Regions from separate parts of the Homo sapiens genome. Here regions 2 and 3 are each linked to region 1. The links come from fine-mapping of genetic effects on gene expression. A gene starts in region 1. Each other region holds a variant in brackets. All regions are shown on one strand. Distances are from middle to middle.

Region 1 (4,153 bases):
GACGCCGTCTCTCTGCTCTCCCTGTGAGCTGAAACCAGCAGTGTTTGCAAGCTTGTAGGGAGTGTGGAAGAAGGCCCCCTGGTCCGCTTGCCTCGCCTGTACGTGTGCAAAATCGGTGGGCAAGCAGCGGGCGCGCAGGTGCACCGTCATTCCCCAGGAACCGCGGGCGCTCTTTGCAGGGGTGCAGCCGCTCTCCCCGCGCGCAGCCTACAGCCCTCCCCGACCCCCGCGAACCCCAGGGCGGGAACTCGTCCCGGTGGCGCGGGCGCTCGCTGCCTGCTGTTTCCCTCTTCGGGTCAGCCCACTCTTATTTCAGGAGTGGAGTGGGACTCTCCCCTGGGCGTTTAGGGTGTCGCCTCTGGCATGTGCTCCCACTGCAGAAAACAAGTCCAAATGCAACGCATCGGGTTTCTGAACAGCCGCCAGAGCGCGGAAACCAGACCGTCAGCAAAGCTGTCGCGGGAACAGGGGCTCTGAGAGGGCGGCGCGGGGGGCGGGGTGCCGGAGTGGGGGTCGAGGCGGGAGGGGGAGTGGGGGTCGAGGCGTGGGGGAGGGTGGCGGGGCACAGGCCAGGTGGCCGATGTTGCGCGTTCCGGGGCCCCTCGGCAGGCGGCGGGTCGGGAGGAGTGGAGGCCCGGGTGGGGCGGGCGCGCGGGGCGGGAGCAGCCCCGGTCGCCGCCTGGGCGCGGGCGCCCTCCCTGTGGAGCATGCGGGACGTGAGCGACGTGTGGCAGCCTCTGCGCAGACTTTTCCGCCGCGGTGTAGGTTTCAGCGAGCGCCGCCTTCCCTCCAATCACAGCCCAGCCTCAGCGCTAAGTGTGCACCTCTCTGCAAGGCGGCGCAGCGCTCCCGTACTGAGGCTTCGTTTGCAAAAGTTACATCCGTCCCGGCGCGGGCGGCGGTTCCCCACCAAAAGCAACCCAGATCTTCCCCGCACGCCTCTGACCTGACTGCACGACTGTCACAAGTCGCGAGCTGGTGCAAACTGCGAGGGCCGGGAAAGGAGACGGGGCACGCATGCACCAAAAAGTGGGGAGGCAGAGCTGCAGGGTGTGCAGGATAACGGAGTGAATTTTAGGAGTCTGCCTAATAAGGGGCCGCCCCCAATAGTTTTCCCTCGACTTAGGTAATGAATTGCAGATCGAAATGGGTCTAGTTTTATTCATTCTTCTACTCGGGGCGATAAAGGTTTATTGAATGGTGTACATGGTGAGTGTGAAAACCAGATGCCAGCTGCCCCCAGCCCCAGTCCACTTCAGTCCAGCTCCCCGGGGCTTTCCCGCCCCCTCCTCGTACCCAGCACCGCGGGCCTCTCAAGGTTCCCAGTCTTTGGGCTAGGGGAGGGGAGCAAGGCTCAGTTCAAGTCCAGGTTTCTAAGGGATTCAGCAAAGTGGACAAGGACGAGGTGAGGTGGGAGGATCAGGGAAGCCTCCTCCCCGCGGGTCGCCCGGGTCGTGGCGGGGGATGGGCTCACGGGTATTATCAGGGAGCAGCCTGGCCCATGTCCTTACCTGGACTGCGCCTGCCCCACAGCGCGTGTTAGGAATGCAGAGTATTGGGGCTCCATGGCCCTAAAGGAGCTGCATTGGTAGGATGCACTTTAAGCAGCTTCCCAAGGGATTCGGCTGCGGGGTCCACGGTCTACACTGGGCAGGACTGCGTCTCTGCTCTCCTCCCGGCCAGCACAGTTGAGGTGAGGGGCCGGAATTAGTCGGGGAAGCTGTGCCAGACGTCCCGAGGGGACAACGGGACGAGGGGATAACAGCAGCCAGGACCCTTCAGCAGGGCTGGGCGCGCTCCAGGCCCGGGGCAGGGCGGCGGGAGCTGGTGCACCGCCGTCGCCGGCCCGCAGGGGGAGCTCGCAGGCTGCTTCCCGGCTCGCCCACCCTCCTCCCCACGTGGAAGGGGGCTGGGACCCAAGGAATGCGGCCCGCCCCGAGGCTGACGTACGCGTCTGCGGCCAGCCCGGACTCTTTAAAAGCCGGCGGTGCGCGGGGCATCCCAGCCAAGCCGGAGAGGAGGCGAGCAGCAGGGCCTGGTGGCGAGAGCGCGGCTGTCACTGCGCCCGAGCATCCCAGAGCTTTCCGAGCGGACGAGCCGGCCGTGCCGGGCATCCCCAGCCTCGCTACCCTCGCAGCACACGTCGAGCCCCGCACAGGCGAGGGTCCGGAACTTAGCCCAAAGCACGTTTCCCCTGGCAGCGCAGGAAACGCCCGGCCGCGCGCCGGCGCACGCCCCCCTCTCCTCCTTTGTTCCGGGGGTCGGCGGCCGCTCTCCTGCCAGCGTCGGGATCTCGGCCCCGGGAGGCGGGCCGTCGGGCGCAGCCGCGAAGATGCCGTTGGAACTGACGCAGAGCCGAGTGCAGAAGATCTGGGTGCCCGTGGACCACAGGCCCTCGTTGCCCAGATGTGAGTGCAGCTGCGCGGAGCCGGGTTGCAGGGCGGGCTGCGCCGGGCCGGGCCATTGTGTGGGGCGGCTTTGTGCCGACGCCCCTCTGCGGGGGGCGCGCCCGTGCGGGTCGCGCCGGCGGGGCGGGGCGGAGGCGCGGGCTGCGCGTCCTTGGCCGGGCGGCGGGGGCGCTGTGGCCCTTGTCCCGGTGGCTGCCCCGCCGGCCCGGAAACGGCGAGTGCGCCCGGCCGGGCTGCGTACCCCGAGACGGAGGGACGCGCGCGCCTGGGCAGGCCAGGGAGGGGATCCACATCCTCCGCGATCCCTGTCCTCGACACCCGTCTCGGGCGGCCGTCGCCGGAGCGCAGCCCAGGGACCCGGCCGCTCGCGCCTCCGCCCCTTTTCACCGTCCGGATCTCCTCTCTCTGCATGTTTCCATCTCCTCTCCCGCCTTGCTATGCATTCCTATCCCCTCGCTTCACTTAATAACCTATTTCTCTGTCCTGTTTTCTCTTTCGATATATATGTCTCTGTTTTTCTCTGTTTCTACCTCCTTCCTCTCCCACTGTTTCTTTCTGCTTTTATCTCTTTCTCTCTCCTTCTCTCTCTTCCGTGCATCTCCAGTGCCATGGGGGCGCCCGTGCTGGGGGCGCCAGGAGAGCCACCTGGAGCCACGCCTGTGTCCCCGGCTTTGGGGAGGGTCGGTGGGTTGGTGAGTGCACGGTTGGCGCTGCTCCACGCGCCCCGGGCGCACGCACCCCCCGGTGCTCGGAATTGGCTGGCAGTACCCTGCCCCGCCCCGCCGGTCGCCGCCCCCGCCACCAGCGATCGCTTGGGAGAGGGTTACCTCGAGCTCCACCTCAGCTGCGGAGCGCCGCCGCGGAAAAGGGCGGGTGGGCAGCGCAGAGGGGCGACGCTGCCTCTCCAGGTAATGCGCCCCGGCTCCCATGGGCTGGACAGGGAGCCGCCTGGTGCGGTTTTGCCCAGGTCAGGTCGTAGCCTGAGTAGTGACCGTGGGATCCAGGTGCAAACTCTCGAGGTGGCTTCGGGTCATCCGAAGGCGCCTGAGCGCAGGCGGCTGGCAGGCAGGGTTGCCCGGCTACTACGTTTCTTAGGACGGCCCCCGCGGGACTTGGCAGCTCTCCTGGAGCCCTGCTCGGTCTGAATCACCGGCCTCGTCCAGACCTGCCCCTCTCCCCACACCCACCCCCATGGTGTGCCCTGGGTGGGGACGTCAGCAGATCCACCCTGGTGGACTTCAGGGTTCTGGGGTAGCCCTCAGGAGAGGTCTTGTTCCCCCTCTTTGTGAGGTAGCCCAGGACTGGGGGATGTGGGTGTGTTGCCCAGCCCAGTCAGATGCGCTTGAACTGGGGTGGCCCATGGTTCTCTTGTCTTTGTGTAAAACCTGTAAGTGGAGTGGAATGCAGCTCTTAAATCCCCAGGGAGGTTTGGCCAAGGCCAAATGCAGAAACAACTTTTGCATAAAGCAAGTATTATCTCTATAGCACTTTGTAAACTGCATTGGAGGCTAGTCCCACATATGTAAATACATGTGATTGTATACGAATGCCCACGGGTCTGAGAGGAGTGTCCCGTGACTTCCAGGGCTCTGAGATCTGTTGGCATCAGCTCAGTTGTGATCTTGAGAACTCCAGCGTGCACCAAGGCGTCCTCCCTCCAGGCTTGGATCCTGATCCATTAGACCCCATCAACCTGCACGTCTCACACGCAGTGAGAGATTTGCCTAAGAATCCCTGTCAGAATC
Region 2 (4,153 bases), 34 kb before region 1:
TGCTGAATTAATAGCTTCATACTCTCTGAAGAGAGGAATACTTTAGGAGTCTCTTTTTTGTTTCTGCCACATTTATTAAATTGTCACATTTTAACACATTTTAAGCCATTTTAACATCTCTTGAGAGAAGGTAGGGGCTGTGGAATGTGTATAAAGAGACAATATCTTGTTTTTCTTGGATCCCTAGCTAGCAGATGTGATTACAGTTTCTTATCAAGAACTCAGCCAGAAAATACCAGCCAAACCCTCTTCCTCCATTGGATTATCTGAGGCAGCATTCGTATCTGGTGGCCTCTCTGCTCTGAGCAGTTTGTGGAGCTCCAGAAGATGTCTCTGATGATCCTCTTTTCTTCCTTTCAAGGGATTTCCTAGATTATTCATCCTAAACCTTGGTCTCATTCCTCTCCTACGCCCTTAGGTGTTAAGGAATTGGATATCTATGGAGATAGCCAGCCCAGCCCTAAGCGACACTGTAGAGAAGGTTAAATTTTGTTTCTCTTTGCCTGTTTCTGGTCCTTTGTCCCTTGCTAAGTCCCTAGGTCGTTCCTGCTTTTTTCTAGGTCACATCCTCAGCTTCTTCATCTGCGTCATCTCTAAATGACAGATAGTAGCTCAGTTTGCATTTTAACTGATAGCTGAGATCTTTAACTCCAGAGATGCTATCTAACCATTTAGGGACAGGTTAAATCACATTGTCTTCTTTCCCTAGCCTGCCCCACTCTCCAACCCCAGCATTTTCATACAGAGGGGCAGCTTAGGTAGGGGTGACTAGAGGTAGTGGGAGGCTGGTGGAAGATCATGAGGTAGTGAGTCCTGGAATCCTCCACTTTGCTCCCACTTGCTGAGCGAGGGCCCTGGCCACCCACACTGACCATGCTTGTATTCATCAGCTGTCCTAGAATGTCCTGCCTCAGGCTGGAGGCTGAGGATGCCAGTGAGCGAGGCAGAACGGTGGCTTCAGTCAGCCTTCCTGGGTTCTGATGCCACCTCCACCACTGAGTAGCTGTGTGACCTTGGAGAATTTCCCAAACATCTCTGTGCTTCAGTTCCCTGATGTGTCAGCCTTATGCAGTTGTGAGGATTAACACGAGCAGCTAAGCACAAAAGGCTTCTACATGGCCTGGTAGAAAATCAGGATGCCACCCTGCTGGTGGCCACTGGAAACCCTATTACAATCCAGAGTGCTTCCTAAGTGGGCCTTATTATTCCTGTCTTAAAGGAACTTTCTGCCCAGCAATGACAACTTGGCCATTGCTACGACCATTATGCATGAGTTTAACGGACCAGAAAATGGGATGGGGTGGTCTGCACAGCAGCTGCCCACTCGCAGGTGCCGAGTGTATTTGCAGGTCTGTTTGAGCCCTTACATTCAGGCCTGGGGATGGATGTGGGTGAATGTGCGCGACAGGAGCGAGGCAGCCCCAGTGGTCTGACTTACATTCAAAGCACTTCACGGAATCCATCTGCCCAGACAACCTCCTAAAGTGGTCCTTCGTTGAATGCCTCTCCCGTCTGCCCCCCGAAAAGTTATCTAAAAGTCCCCACTCCTTATGCTTTCTCTTTTTGAGCCAGAGTCTCGCTCTGTCACCCAGGCTGGAGTGCACTGGTCACTGCAACCTCCCCCTGGTTCAAGCAATTATCTTGCCTCAGCCTCCCAAGTAGCTGGGGCTACAGGCATGTGCCACCACGCCCGGCAAATTTTTTGTATTTTTAG[T/A]AGAGACGGGGTCTTGCCATGTTGGCCAGGATGGTCTCGAACTCTTGACCTCAAGTGATCCCCCCGCCTCAGCCTCCCAAAGTGCTGGGATTACAGGCGTGAGCCACCGCGCCCAGTCTTCTTATATTTTCTTGTCACAGTGCATCTGCTTGGGTGGCAGGTGCACCTACCTGGGGGAGAGCACATTTTCTGTTCTTTTCTTAGTCTTACGCAGGGAGGATTGTGATTGGGACTCTGGCGGCTGTGAGCAGGGTAGGGGGTCTTAATTTTAGTGAGCAAGGGGCACGAATGCTCAGACCTGGGCCACCATGGAGTTGTCGGGGTGTGGGTAGGAGACTGGCGTCACCCATAAATGCAGAGTAGACCCACTTCCTCCAGGATATTTGACTGTGATCTTGGGCCATTGTGTCTGTTCCCCAGGCCCTGAGGGTTCTCCTGGGATAAGATGGGTATGAACTTGCTGCGCTGATGGTGAAGGCGGGTGGCTGAGGAACAGGAAGAGTGCGTCCAGTACTGCTTAAGAATTCGGTGATGTATCCTGGGCTCTCTAGAGGCTTACAAACATGTGGAATCTAAAAGTCACTCAGAATTTGGAACTCTCTAAATGTTTATGTCCCAGGGTGAAATCCCAGCCCTGAGCTCTATATATGGGAGTGGCCAGGAGGGTCTGAGCACCGAGGAAGGACTGGCTTCTGCCTGGCTCCCGGTTTTATGTTTCCCTAACATTGTTATGTCTTGGATGTGTATTTCCTTAAACCTTTCCCAGGTTCCTTTTGGTTCTGGGTCTAGGACACTGAGAAGATTGAAACATTGGGAGTGCACTGGCCTTGCTCTCTGGAAAGGCTTTACTTTTCCTCTTGCCTATTTGCAGTTCCCTTAAATTAGTCACATTTTGGGACCCTCTTTTGCATTGAATTTCTGGGACTTCTGTTTGTGGTTATTTTGAAGTGGGGGTGGGAGGACATGCCTGGGCCCACCCCGTGGTTCTTTAATGAAGACGATGGTTTTCCTTTTAAGCAAAAGAACCTTGTTTACCATTAACCAGAACTCTGGAAATAGATATTTAATCCCCAAACAGAGGTGATGGTGTGTCTAGAAGCAATTTAAAGCCTCCATAGCTTGACTAGTCACTTTATCCTGGGCAACTTTTTGGATTGTTTGGTAATCTAGAAACGAGAGAGAACGCTAATTGCTTCAACATTAAAGAAACCCACCTTCTAGACTCACTCGTTCCCCCACCCCTCCTTTATGTTTTCTTTCTTGTTCCTCTAAGAAATGAAATATAGAAGACGAAAATATAAACTGGACTACAGCAGGGTGCAGTGGTGCATGCCTGTAATCCCAGCACTTTGGGAAGGAGGATTGCCTGAGGCCAGGAGTTTGAGACTGGCCTGGGCCACATAGACCTCCTTCCTACAAAAAATTTAAAAAGTATATTTAAACCAGACTAGAAACTTTCAACCACAAAAATCCATGGGGTCATTGAGGTGCAAATGGAAAGACCAGGAGCAAAAGTAGAGGGAGCAAAAGTAGAGGGTGGGGACAGTGTGGAGGTGAGGACAGTATGGAGGTGGGGACAGGGTATGGAGGTGGAGACAATGTATGGAGGTGGAGGCGGTGGCTGAGCAGAGCAGGAAAGCTGCTGGGGGCTGTGAGGAGCTAGGTTTGGCTGGGTGACAGCAAGGGCTGGACAGAAAGTGCTTTCAGAAAAGCCCAAGGATAAAGTCCAAAGAGATTAAAGGTTAAAAAAAAAAGAAAAGCTCAGGAAGAGGAAGATGACAGGTCCCCAGGGGAAATCTGCCTAATCCAGCAGCTGGGAAGACAGGATACCCTCAGGCCCTTCCTTAGGGCAAAAGGATTACTCCGTGCAGGAAGGAAATATTACAAAGTCTTTCTTCTCTATTTTATTATTATTATTTTTTTATGAGACGGAGTTTCGCTCTTGTTGCCCAGGCTGGAGTGCAGTGGTGCAATGGTGCAATGGCGTGTTCTTGGCTCACCGCAACCTCCGTCTCCCGGGTGCAAGTGATTCTCCTGCCCCAGCCTCCCGAGTAGCTGGGATTACAGGCATGCACCACCATGCCACCACGCCTGGCTAATTTTGTATTTTTAGTAGAGACGGGATTTCTCCATGTTGGTCAGGCTAGTCTTGAACTCCCGACCTCAGGTGATCCACCCGCCTCAGCCTCCCAAAGTGCTGGGATTACAGACGTAAGCCACCGGGCCCGGCCCTTCTTCTCTATTTTTAACTCATCTTTTAAAATTGTTCTTTCTTTCTTTTTTTTTTTTTTGGAGACTGTCTCGTTCTGTTGCTCGGGTTGAAGTGCAGTGGCGCGATCTTGGCTCACTGCAGTCTCAACCTCCTGGGCTCAAGGAATCCTCCCGGCTCAGCCTCCCAAGAAGCTGGGACTATAGGCGTGTGCTGCCACACTCGGCTAA
Region 3 (4,153 bases), 64 kb after region 1:
ATTTCCAAATTAAAGAAAGGCTGTAAGAATAGTACAGAGAAACCCCTTGTTCCCTTTACTCAAAATGTTTTTCAACATTTAACAAAACATTTTGCCACATTCACTTGTTTATTCTGTTTCCCTCTTTCTTTTTCATTCTCTCTATACGTGTATGTTATTTTTATTTTCCATCTTTTCCTTAATAATCTGAGAGTAGATTGCATAAATCAGGCTCCTTTACTCCTTTATATTTCAGTGTGTGTTTTGTAAGAACAAAGAGAGTCTCTCATATAACCATGGTATAGTTACCAAATTCAGAAAATTTGACCTTGATAGAATACTTGTATATAATGTAGTCTATCTTCCAAGTCATCGATCATCTTAATGATGTCCTTTCTAGCATTGTTTCCCTGGAGGTACACGGTCTCATTCAGAGACACCTACTGCATTTAGTTGTCAATTTGTGTTAGTTTTCTTTAACTTGGCATAGTTTCTTTTTCTTTCATTTTTTTTTTTTTTTTGAGATGGAGTCTAACTCTGTCACCCAGGCTGGAGTGCAGTGGCGCCATCTCGGCTCACTGCAACCTCCACCTCCCGGGTTCAAGCGATTCTCCTGCCTCAGCCTCCCGAGTAGCTGGGACTACAGGTGCATGCCACCATGCTCGGCTAATTTTTGTATTTTTAGTAGAGGCGGGGTTTCACCATGTTGGCCAGGCTGGTCTCAAACTCCTGGCCTCATGTGATCTGCCTGCCTCAACCTCCCAAAGTGCTGGGATTACAGGCATGAGCCACCGCCCCTCACCTAATTTGGTATAGTTTCTTAAGCTTTTTGTTTTTCATGATATTGACAATTTTGAAGAATACAAGCCAGTTATTTTATCAAATGTTTCTCAATTTGATTTTGTCTCATGTTTCTCCACTATTATGTTTAGGCTATACATCCCTGGCTAGAATATTATGGAAGTCATGTTGTGTCTCTTGGGGTATCACCTATGAAGGCCTGTCACCCCACCTGCCTCTTGCGGGTAATTATTTTGACCACCTGCCCAAGGTATTGTTCAATTTTTCCACCGTATATTTACTATTTTCTCCCTTGGAGCTAATAAGCAATCTATGGGGAAACACTGGTGCCACGAAGACATCCTACTCCTCATCCAAATTTCTTTTTAAGTTTAGCTTTCACTGATGATTCTTGTCTCAACCAATCTTTGCTATAATGATTGCAGAAACATAATTTTCCAGCTCCACCCCCTCCTTCTGTGTTTATTGTTCAGGATTCTGCTGTCAGGAGGAGACTTCTCTTGTCCTTCATTTTTTTTTTTGTTTTTCTATTTATTATTATCATTTTTTAGAGACTGGGTCTAGTTCTGTTACGTAGGTGGGAGTGCAGTGGCATGATCATAGCTCACTGCAGCCTTGACCTCCTGCGCTCAAGGAATCCTCCTGCCTTAGCCTCCTGAGTAGCTAGGTCTATAGGCTTGTGCCCCACGCCTGGTTATTTTAAATTTTTTTGTAGAGACAAGGCCTTACTATGTTGCCCAGGCTGGTCTCAAACTCTTGGGCTCAAGTGATCCTTCTGCCTCGGCCTCTCAAATTGTTGGGATTACAGGCATGAGCCACTGAGCTTGAGACTGTTTATTTTATGGATTCATTGATTCCTATTATATTTAATGAGTTATAATCCATAGTGTCCTTATTTATTTTGACACTCAAATTGTCCCAGATTTGGGTCATAGGAGCATCTTCAGGCTGGCTCCTGTATCCTTCGGCATGCTCTCCTCTTCTGCTTTGAGGACGTCGTTGATTTCTAGGCCTGTACAATACTCCAGGCTCATCTTGTGCCTTCCCTGTCTCAGCTCTAAGACTGTCGATGTCTCTAACAAGCCCTCGGTCCTAGATCTGGTTGTAGTTGTGTTATTGCCAGTGGGTGTCATTGCTTCTAGGGTGTTTCAGTGGCCAGAGTTGGGATAAATATGTGTGTGTGTTCACATATGCGTAAATAAAACCATACAATAACTATAATATGTATGTGTGTGTATCTATATCTATATATGGTTGTATTATTGGAAATATACATTCATATTGAGATCTCCAATTCTAATTCAATGCAAATGTTCTTCTTTCACCCAGGACTGTCCACATATTTTGCAGAGTCCAAGTAAAATGTAGGACTCCGTTTTCAAAATTTATTCAGTATTTCAAAACAGCAACAGCAGAGCATTAACCCAAATAAAGGGCAAGGGGTCCCTGCCAAACCTGGGGCCCCGCATGATGGCCTTGGTCTCATGCGTGCGAAGCAGGCCTTGCCTCCATTATGCTCACAGGGAGAATGCTGGCTCACAGCATTGACAGCGTAACGCAAGATTGTCTGCGGAATTTGGGGACTATGTGAAAGAAAAAAGCAGAATTTAGAGGTGCTAAATTATAAATCTTTCACCTTTTTTCTCTTGTCATGTTGTTTTTTAAAATTTGCTATTTAATGTTATTCAAAATAAAGAAACAAGTTATTAGCATGAGTTCTACAGTTCGTCCTTATATTGTGCAGTGACAATTTTACATGCAAACATAAGCGCATTTAACTCATAAGTGGGTTCACCACAATCACACAACTGGTATTTCCCAGCTTGTATAGGC[A/C]TATGTATCTTGTTCTTATGAGAACAATGGAGATATTGTACAAAACAAACTCACTGCTTTTATTCACCGCTTGATAACGCTCATGTTCTGCCATTGCTGGCTACCCTGGACGTACGTACTAATGAGTGAGGAAGGTCTGAAAGGAGAAGGAACTGTGGGTTTCACTGGCTTTCCCTTTCCTCACTTCAGCATGTGTACTTGGCTAATACAGGGAAGTAGGAGGTCAGGATGAGGCTCCTTAGTGGTTAGAGTTTCTTAGAACGTCATTGCCTTCTTTCTGCAGTCAGGGCAAGTTCTGGGTCAAACAGAAAGTGCGGTGTCTCGGGGCTGTTGGCGTTCTTACTTACTCACTTGTAGACATAGCACGCTTCCTTTCAGCCCCTTCTACTCACTTGCTGAATTCCCAGCCATCAAGGCAGCAAGCTTCACTTCTCAAACATCAGTTCAAAGATCAAATTACTGGCCGGGTGCAGTGGCTCATGCCTGTAATCTCAGCATTTTGGGAGGCCGAGGCGGGCGGATCACCTGAAGTCAGGAGTTCGAGACCAGCCTGGCCAACATGGTGAAACCCCGTCTCTACTAAAAATACAAAAATTAGCCAGGCATGGTGGCGGGCGCCTGTAGTCCCAGCTACTCGGGAGGCTGAAGCAGGAGAATCGCTTGAACCCGGGAGGCAGAGGTTGCAGTGAGCCGAGATGGTGCCACTGCACTCCAGCCTGGGTGACAGAGCGAGACCCTATCTCAAAAAAAAAAAAAAAAAAAAAAATCAAATTACTAAGAATTTCAAGCTGGCAATGACAGTGTTAAACCATGTGTAGTGTCCTGAGCATGGGGCCCTGTGCGACGGAGCAGTTCTCATGTCCGCTGCTTTTCAAGGATTTTCCTGTCTCCCCTCCCCCACGCCACTTCCATGGTCTGGAAGCCACAGGCAGAGCCCCTAAGGTGGTTATGTTGAGATTAGGTGTGGAATTCTTGGCATCATTTGAAGTTACTCTGTATCCCAGTAATGCTGAAAGCATGTGTGTCTTATTTGTACTTCTTGATAAACTTCTTTTTGGAGATTGCGTAGAGGGTTTTTAATTCAAGTGGCTGCTATTATGCCTCATGCTAGGAACCTTTTTGGGGGTGCTTTTCTATACTATTATAAAAATTATATAAGGCTAGGCACGGTGGCTCATGCCTGTAATCCCAGCACTTGAGGTCAGGAGTTTGAGACCAGCTTGGCCAACATGGAGAAACCCCATCTCTACTAAAAATACAAAAATTAGCCAGGGATGTTTGCGTGCACCTGTAATCCCAGCTACTCAGGAGGCTGAGGCAGGAGAATCACTCGAACGCAGGAGGTGGAGGTTGCAGTGAGCCAAGATTGTGCCACTGCACTCCAGCCTGGGTGACAGAATGATACTCCGTCTCCAAATAAATAAATAAATAGAAATTATATAAATATATTTAATAAAAAAGACTAGTTAACTTTTTTTTTTGTACTGGATCATACATTCACAAATTTCAAACATAAAGAGGTTAAAGAGGCTGGGTGATG

What was found. PIP is the estimated chance that this variant, and not a neighbour inherited with it, causes the effect. A credible set is the group of variants that fine-mapping cannot tell apart.
Region 2: its variant is the best candidate, but not a certain one, in a credible set for the expression of PFKFB3 in whole blood (TOPMed, PIP 0.51).
Region 3: its variant is the best candidate, but not a certain one, in a credible set for the expression of PFKFB3 in whole blood (TOPMed, PIP 0.82).

What each region holds. Positions count from the first base shown.
Region 1 is chr10:6,200,929-6,205,081 of GRCh38, forward strand. It overlaps PFKFB3 (6-phosphofructo-2-kinase/fructose-2,6-biphosphatase 3), which reads left to right and starts at 2,004. Exons shown (of 15, transcript NM_004566.4): 1 at 2,004-2,408. The coding sequence starts at 2,333. It overlaps PFKFB3-AS1 (PFKFB3 antisense RNA 1), which reads right to left and starts at 1,829. Exons shown (of 2, transcript XR_007062045.1): 1 at 1,512-1,829. RefSeq lists enhancers at 1-157, 158-674, 1,229-1,733, 3,473-3,975, silencers at 477-696, 1,727-2,056, 2,107-2,216, 2,337-2,846, 3,077-3,156 and a cis regulatory region at 1,667-2,198.
Region 2 is chr10:6,167,410-6,171,562 of GRCh38, forward strand. It overlaps a transcript of PFKFB3 not described here. Among named protein-coding and RNA genes, the nearest start is that of MIR3155B, 17 kb to the left of the region's middle. The variant T/A (reference allele first, on the strand shown) is at 1,715.
Region 3 is chr10:6,264,599-6,268,751 of GRCh38, forward strand. It overlaps a transcript of PFKFB3 not described here. Among named protein-coding and RNA genes, the nearest start is that of LINC02649, 60 kb to the right of the region's middle. The variant A/C (reference allele first, on the strand shown) is at 2,614.